Linked DNA regions of Homo sapiens. The protein of the gene in region 1 purifies or fractionates together with the protein of each later gene. This does not show direct contact. Each region holds a gene or a part of one and is shown on either strand. Other genes may lie near its edges.

Evidence for each region. The genes of interacting proteins can lie anywhere in the genome.
Region 2: the proteins of DAZAP1 (region 1) and AASDHPPT fractionate together in Homo sapiens (co-fractionation; one large-scale study listed by BioGRID). This does not show direct contact.

Annotation. Positions count from the first base shown.
Region 1 is NC_000019.10:1,406,332-1,410,427, reverse strand, and holds the start of DAZAP1 (DAZ-associated protein 1), read right to left. Parts: upstream 2,843-4,096; 5' UTR 2,655-2,842; coding exon 2,626-2,654; intron 2,544-2,625; exon of another isoform or gene 807-2,543; coding exon of another isoform or gene 349-806; intron 1-348. UniProt on the Homo sapiens protein: RNA-binding protein, which may be required during spermatogenesis.
Region 2 is NC_000011.10:106,096,885-106,099,261, reverse strand, and holds the end of AASDHPPT (L-aminoadipate-semialdehyde dehydrogenase-phosphopantetheinyl transferase), read right to left. Parts: coding exon 2,355-2,377; 3' UTR 567-2,354; downstream 1-566. UniProt on the Homo sapiens protein: Catalyzes the post-translational modification of target proteins by phosphopantetheine.

The sequences.
Region 1 (4,096 bases):
CCTGTCCCCCACCCTTCACAAGAGGACCAGGACAGGCCCCGCTCCCAAAGGAGGACACTGTCCATCACATCCACCATGTAGGGTCCGCGTGCCAAACCCACCAGGATCCAGAGAGGGACTCCCCACACCCCACCACACGTATGCGCTTCCTCCTGCATGAAGCCCCCCTCAAGCTGACTGGAAGTCGGTGTGTGTAAGGCATCCGTTATCACCGGCAGGCCTCAGCTGACTTTCATCCCCCATCAAGCTTTACATGGACTTCTAAGCCAGCACAGGGACCCTCAAAACTTGGGACGACTTCTCAGACTCAAAAGCAGAGCTTCCCCCAAGGATGGCTCCCTAACCCACCTTCCAGGTGTGGATTCCCAGGGCAGCAGCTGGACGGCCACAAGTGTCCCAGAACAGGGGGCTCCCAAGCTCCAAGTCTCCTGAGGCGTTGACCCCGCACCCATGCATGCTCCAGGCCCAGCCCTCCAAGCGGGGTCCGGCGGGATCTCCTGCCTCCTCCATGGCAGTGAGCAGTGAGGGCTCTGCATCAGGAAGAGGGAGCTCCTCAGGCTGCCGAGCCCCCCCAGTGGGTAAGGGACACCGCAGACCCATGGCGTCCTGAGAGCCGCCATCTGCCGCAGAGAGGGCCTGCTTCCATCCAAGCTCAGCACCCTCCTGCATGGCACCCACCGCACCTGCAGGGGACTTGCCAGGAGGGCGCTTCGCAGGGTCACAAGCATTTCACGCACACAACAACTCCACACAGCAAGATCAGAGCAGACCGTGGACTCCGCATAGAATGGAAGCCGGTCTCCCATGCGACGGGCGGCTGTGGCAACACTTCTTGCCCAAGGAGTCTGACTTAGAAAGCAGTGGACACTCCTGGCAGCCGGGGAGGAGAGCAGGGTCCATGCACTCCAGTTCTCCTCCACGCAGCCCGTGGCGTCCGGGTGGCCTGCGAGCCTATTTGTGCTGTGGGTGGGACCCCTCCAGACCCAGGCTGGGACCCCAGCTGCCCCACTTCCCAAGGGTGTCCATGCAGGGAGGGGACAGGAGCCCTCACCTCTCTCCAGCCTCCTCACAGCCACGGCTTGGGTGGAGCGGGCCCACGTTCACCCGCGGCTTGAATGGACCTAATCCAGGTACCCCATCTGGGAGCCCTTTCCCTGCCTCACCCCAAAGTCGATGGCTCCATCCCCCATGGCCGGTGGACTCCCTGCTCAGGCCCATCCCTGCAATGTCCCTCACACAGGCACACGGACCCTGCCAAGTCAAAGTGCCTGGAGAGGACTCACAGCACGGGCTAGGCAGGGGCTAAGTGCTTTCATCCTGGTTCTCCAACGGAAGGTGCTCTTTTGTTTTGTCTGGGGAGGGGGAGAGCCCACAAAAGGCATTTCCCATCCACAAGTGTGACCTGTAGCTGGTGCGAGAGGCGCCTGCCAAGGCAACCCTCTAGCAGCAACCGCTCCCGCACTAGCCAAGCCCAGCGCTGAGAACACAGGGCGCTGCTCAAAGCTAAGGGCACCGAGAAATTTACACCAGACCACTAGGAAACCCAACCCAGACTGTTTTGCCGGAAGAATGCAACTCTAAAACGACGTCGCTGCGGCAGGAGCCGCTCCTACCAAAGAATGGCGCCGAGCCCTGGGGCACAGCGAAATGAGGTTTCCCGGCCCCGCGGGGTCCGGAGCAGGTCAGGCTCCTATAGGAGGGGACGCCTCGGCGCAGCAAAGATCCGCGGGCCCGTCGCCGCCTCGGAAGCGCTGACTCTCCCTTCCGCAGCTCAAGCCCACCCCCGGCGGGGAGGCGCCGAGGCAACGTAAACACAGCAGGCCCCGGCTGACCCGAGCCCCCTGGGCCCTGGGTTTGCGAACCCCTCCCGACCTTACCACTTTGGGGGGGTGGGATGGGAGCGGGGAGCCCGGAGCCCCGAGTGGGATAGGTTGGGCGGTGGCAGAACCGGAACCCTCGCCTCGGCTCGCCACGTGCGCCGCCCGCCAAGTTTGGGCGCGCGCTGGGGGCGCCCCGGACCACCCCCCACGCCACAGTTTGGGGTCCCCCTGGCCAGGAAGCCGGGAGGCGGCGGCGACGGCGCCCTGGACTCCCCGCAGACTCCCTCAGGTTCTCATTCGGGGTCCCCCAGGCCAGGAAGCCCTACAGGCGGCAACGGGGACGCTCCAGACCCCCCCAAGTTCCCGTTCGGGGCCGCCACAACCAGGAAGCGGCGGCGGGGGCCCCTGAACCCCTCTGGCTCCCATTCGGGGTCCCTCAGGACGCGCAGTCGGGAAGCGGCGGCACGGGCGCCCCAGGACACCCCCCCAGGTTGCCGTTCGGGGTTCCCCCGACCAGGAAGTCTGGAGGCGGCGGCGGGGCCCCCCGGACCCCTCAGGCTCTCCTTCAGGATCCCCCAGGACGGGAAGCCGGGAAGCGGCGGCGGGGGCGCCAGGACCCCCCCAGACCCCGGGCACCCGTCCAGGGCCCCCGGCGCGAAGCCGCGGCGAGTCCGGGTCCCGAGTCCGCCCCCGGCCGGCGTGACCTTGACGGGGCGGCCCCGGGGGGCGGCGTCTGAGGCCGGGCGGCGGGGAGCGGCGGGCCGGGCTCGGGGCGGAGACGCAGGCCCGCGCCGCTCGTCCTCACCCGATCTCGTCGGCGCCCGAGTTGTTCATGGCGGCGGCGGCGGCGACGCTCGGCGCTCCCGGGCCTCCTCGCTCGCTCCCGCCTCCGGAAGGTCACCCGCTCCGTCGCCCTCCCCACAGCCGCGGCCCGGATCTGCGCAACGGCGGCGGCGGCGGCGGCGGCGGCGGCGGCGGCGGCGGCGGCTGCCTCCTCCCCTCGGCGCCAACGGTCACCGCGCGTCCCCGCGCCGCCGCGCCGCCGCCCCTGCGCACGCCCGGGCGCGCTCCCGCACGGGGTCTCCGGGGGCGGGTCCAGGGGTACTCCGTCTGTGCGTGCGTCCCTGAGGCGGATTTCGCGCCGCCGCAGTCGGGGCCGTCGCGCGTTTTCCTTTCTCCTCGGAGGCTCCTGGCGTTGCCGCGGGGCACGCTGGGAAATGGAGTCCCTGCGCTGGCCCCGCCCCTGCAAGGGGAGGATGCGCGCGGGCCGAGCCACGTGCGTGCGTGCGCGCGCGTGCGGGCTTGCGTGCGCGTGCGCGCTTGCGAGACCGGCGCTCCGGGCTAGGCACTGTGGGCGCAGGCGCGGCTGCCGCTTCCTCTTTAACTCTTCACTCGGAAGCGGTGGAGCCGCGTGGGGCGCTGCGGGGAGTGGGAGTGTACCCGCCCGCACCCCAGGCGGGCGGACGGAGCGGGAACGGCACGTGAGCGTCCCGCGCGAGGCTCCTTCCCCTGTCCGCATTTCACAGAAGAGGATCCCGAGGGTCCGAGAGGCTGAGTCACTTGGCCAAGGTCACCCAGTTCGGGGCTGAACTGGAATCAAATCAAAACAATTAACTAAATTCAATGACTATGAAAAGATATTATTGACCCCCCCCCCAAGTGCTATTACTATTAATAGCCAAATACTGTTTTAGTTGCATCTGTTAATTGCATACATCAGTGGTTCTTCTTCTGGGTGACTTTGCCCCCTAGGGGATAACTTGGCAATGTCTGAAAACACGGTTTTGGTTGTCACAACTTGAGTGCGGGGTGCTGCTGGCATCGAGTGGGTCCAGACCAGACATGCCGCTCAGCACCCTGCAGTGCACACGACGACCCCCCAAAAAGAATGATACCCGTCCTCCAATGTCAGCAGAAGGAGGTGGAAAAACCGGTCTAGGCTGACGGTAGTAAACAGGTGACCCGCAGGGTTTTGTAAAACCGGGTACGTGCTGCCTACTGCTTTTCTCCTTAATCTCACAGCACATTGACAGCCTGATCGTTTGGTTTATTCATCATCACAGAATTAAATAAATACAAGGAACAAGGCCGGGTGAGGTGGCGCACGCCTATAATCCCAACACTTTGGGAGGCCGAGGATCAATTTAGGTCAGGAGATCGAGACCAGCCTAGCCAACATATATAGTGAAACCCCGTCTCTACTAAAAATACAAAAGAAAATTAGCCGGGCGTGGTGGTGGGCGCCTGTAATCCCAGCTACTCGGGAAGCTAAGGCC
Region 2 (2,377 bases), on another chromosome or scaffold:
CATTGTTACGTTTGAACATATAGAGAAGATATTCATACATATGGTAGAAATCTATGCAGTCAATTAACTAAAGGAAATAAGAAATTAGTATATGGTAAGGATAATACATCACTCAGCTGTATACAGCAGTTACATAATCTCAATAATGTACACATATCCTTAGTGTAATCACAGTCAACAATGTAAACATTGAATTGTTATGTTGGGAGGAGAAAAGGGGATAAAAAGGGAATGTGTAATGCTGGGAAGCAGAAGAGGGAAGCTTTATTTTGAAAATCAAAGAAACAATGCCTAAAATTAAAAAATCAAGTAAAAGCAATATAAGCATGTCATTTGGAGACATGGTAATAAATAACAAAAAAAATAACATCTAAAAGAGTTGAAAGGGCTTGCCCTGGAGACAGGAAATGGAAGAAGTCAGAGTAATGGCCTTTTTCCTTAGGAAAAAAATCTTACAGATCTATCCAATTTTTTAAAGCTGTGTACACATGAAACTTTGATTAAAAGTAATAGAAAAACTAAAAACTAAAAAACACAAATCCAACACAGTGTCAGGCTCATAGAAATTCCATAATAAATGTTCATTTTTTTATTATTATAATGACAAGACAAAGTTTTTCATATCACCATTACACTCATGCTAGGGATAACAATACTTCCTCTATTATAAATGCTACTTGACCTTTATTTACTATGCTTGGCATAACTGGGCATGCTTAATAAAATAAAAAAAAAAAACATTCAAATTTTTTTCTTTTACTAATCGAAGTACCTAATTTTATACAATTTGCACACTTTTAATGTTAGTAACAGAAACAATGAAATTATTTTACTTCTTGATACTTAAGAGTTTAACTCCAAGACATGCACTACAACCACATAATAGATTTTTGTCATCAATATGATGGTCCTGGCATCTTATATATTAAGTTCACACTTTAAATTAAGTACTACTTGCTAAAACGAAAACAGGTAAAAACAATGAACAGACGGTTCACGTTAAGAGGAATACGAAAAGCCAATAACAATACTGACATAACAATCTTATTTGTAATGAAAGAAATACAAATTTTAAAAATGACATACCATTTTTTAATTACATTGGCAAAAATTAAACCAAAAAGAATACCTACAATTGACCAAGGAGTATTCTGGCAGGGGGAGGGAAGTCACATACATATAGTACTAATTAGAGGGGTAAATTGTATAATTAAAGCCCTATGAACCAGTCAAACCAATCATTCCACTTTTAGAAACTTTCTCAAGGACATAATTAAGCATGTAACTCAAAATGTACAAGGACATTCACTCTGCCACTGCTTGTAGTAATAAACTGCAGATAATCAAAATGTCTAACACAGAAAAAAGTGAGTAAATTATGGTAAACCTTTCTTATGGGAAGGCAGTGGGCTTCCAATTCCATTCTTCACACCTAGCTTAGCTTCTTTCTTTTCAACAGAGTCTACTTCTAACAGAGACCAAAAATGTCAGACATTGCCTTTCTCTGTAACCTGATCTAAGTCAATGGAAACTGAGGGGAAATCTTCTGGAGGCTTTTGTTAAAAATCTTCCTCATGGATAAAACAAATGAGAGACGAAATGGCCTTTTCTGCCTTTGAGATACAATTTTACAAAGATGTAAAACTGGAAGTTATAGCAGCAGCTCTTGTGATCGAGAGGTGGAATAGCCTAAGGCAAAACAAACCAACTGAGGTCAAGGCAAAAAAAGTGTGTCTTTAATGACACCCCTGAACCCTGTGTTATGTCAAACAATTTCCTAGGTTACTTAGGCCAATTATATTTGGACACTGTTACCTCTGGCCAAAAGCATCCTAACTTGTATTAGCTATACAACAGAGTACATTAGAACCACAAAAAGTTATGTTACAGAGGTATATTTATGAACAGTAGATGTGCAGTTAAAAAGAATTTACAAAACAGTACGTTTCCATGTTTTTAAAAAAATCAAATATGTCAATATGGATTCATTTGCCAAGAAAAAGGTCTGAAAAGATACTCAAGGTTTTAAGAGTAGTTATCTTTGAAAGATAGCATTTAAATGTTTCCTTTTGCTTATGTGCATTTTCTATTTTTTTCTACAGTTAGCATGTATCACTTTAAGATTCCGCCATCCTTCCTATCAATTCAATGCAATTTAGGAAAGAAAGAGGTAAACATGTATTCCAGTGAGCTATCTTGAACCAGAAGTCTGCTTTTTTTTTTTAATTGGAAAAGTTTCTGTTCTTTAAAAAAACTTTCGTGAAATAAAATTTGATACTAAACAAGCATTTATTTTTCAGTGAATACGGAAGATCACAAACAGTTTTCATTTCCCTTTGTTACTCAGGGAATCATCATGACTTTGTACCATTTCGTA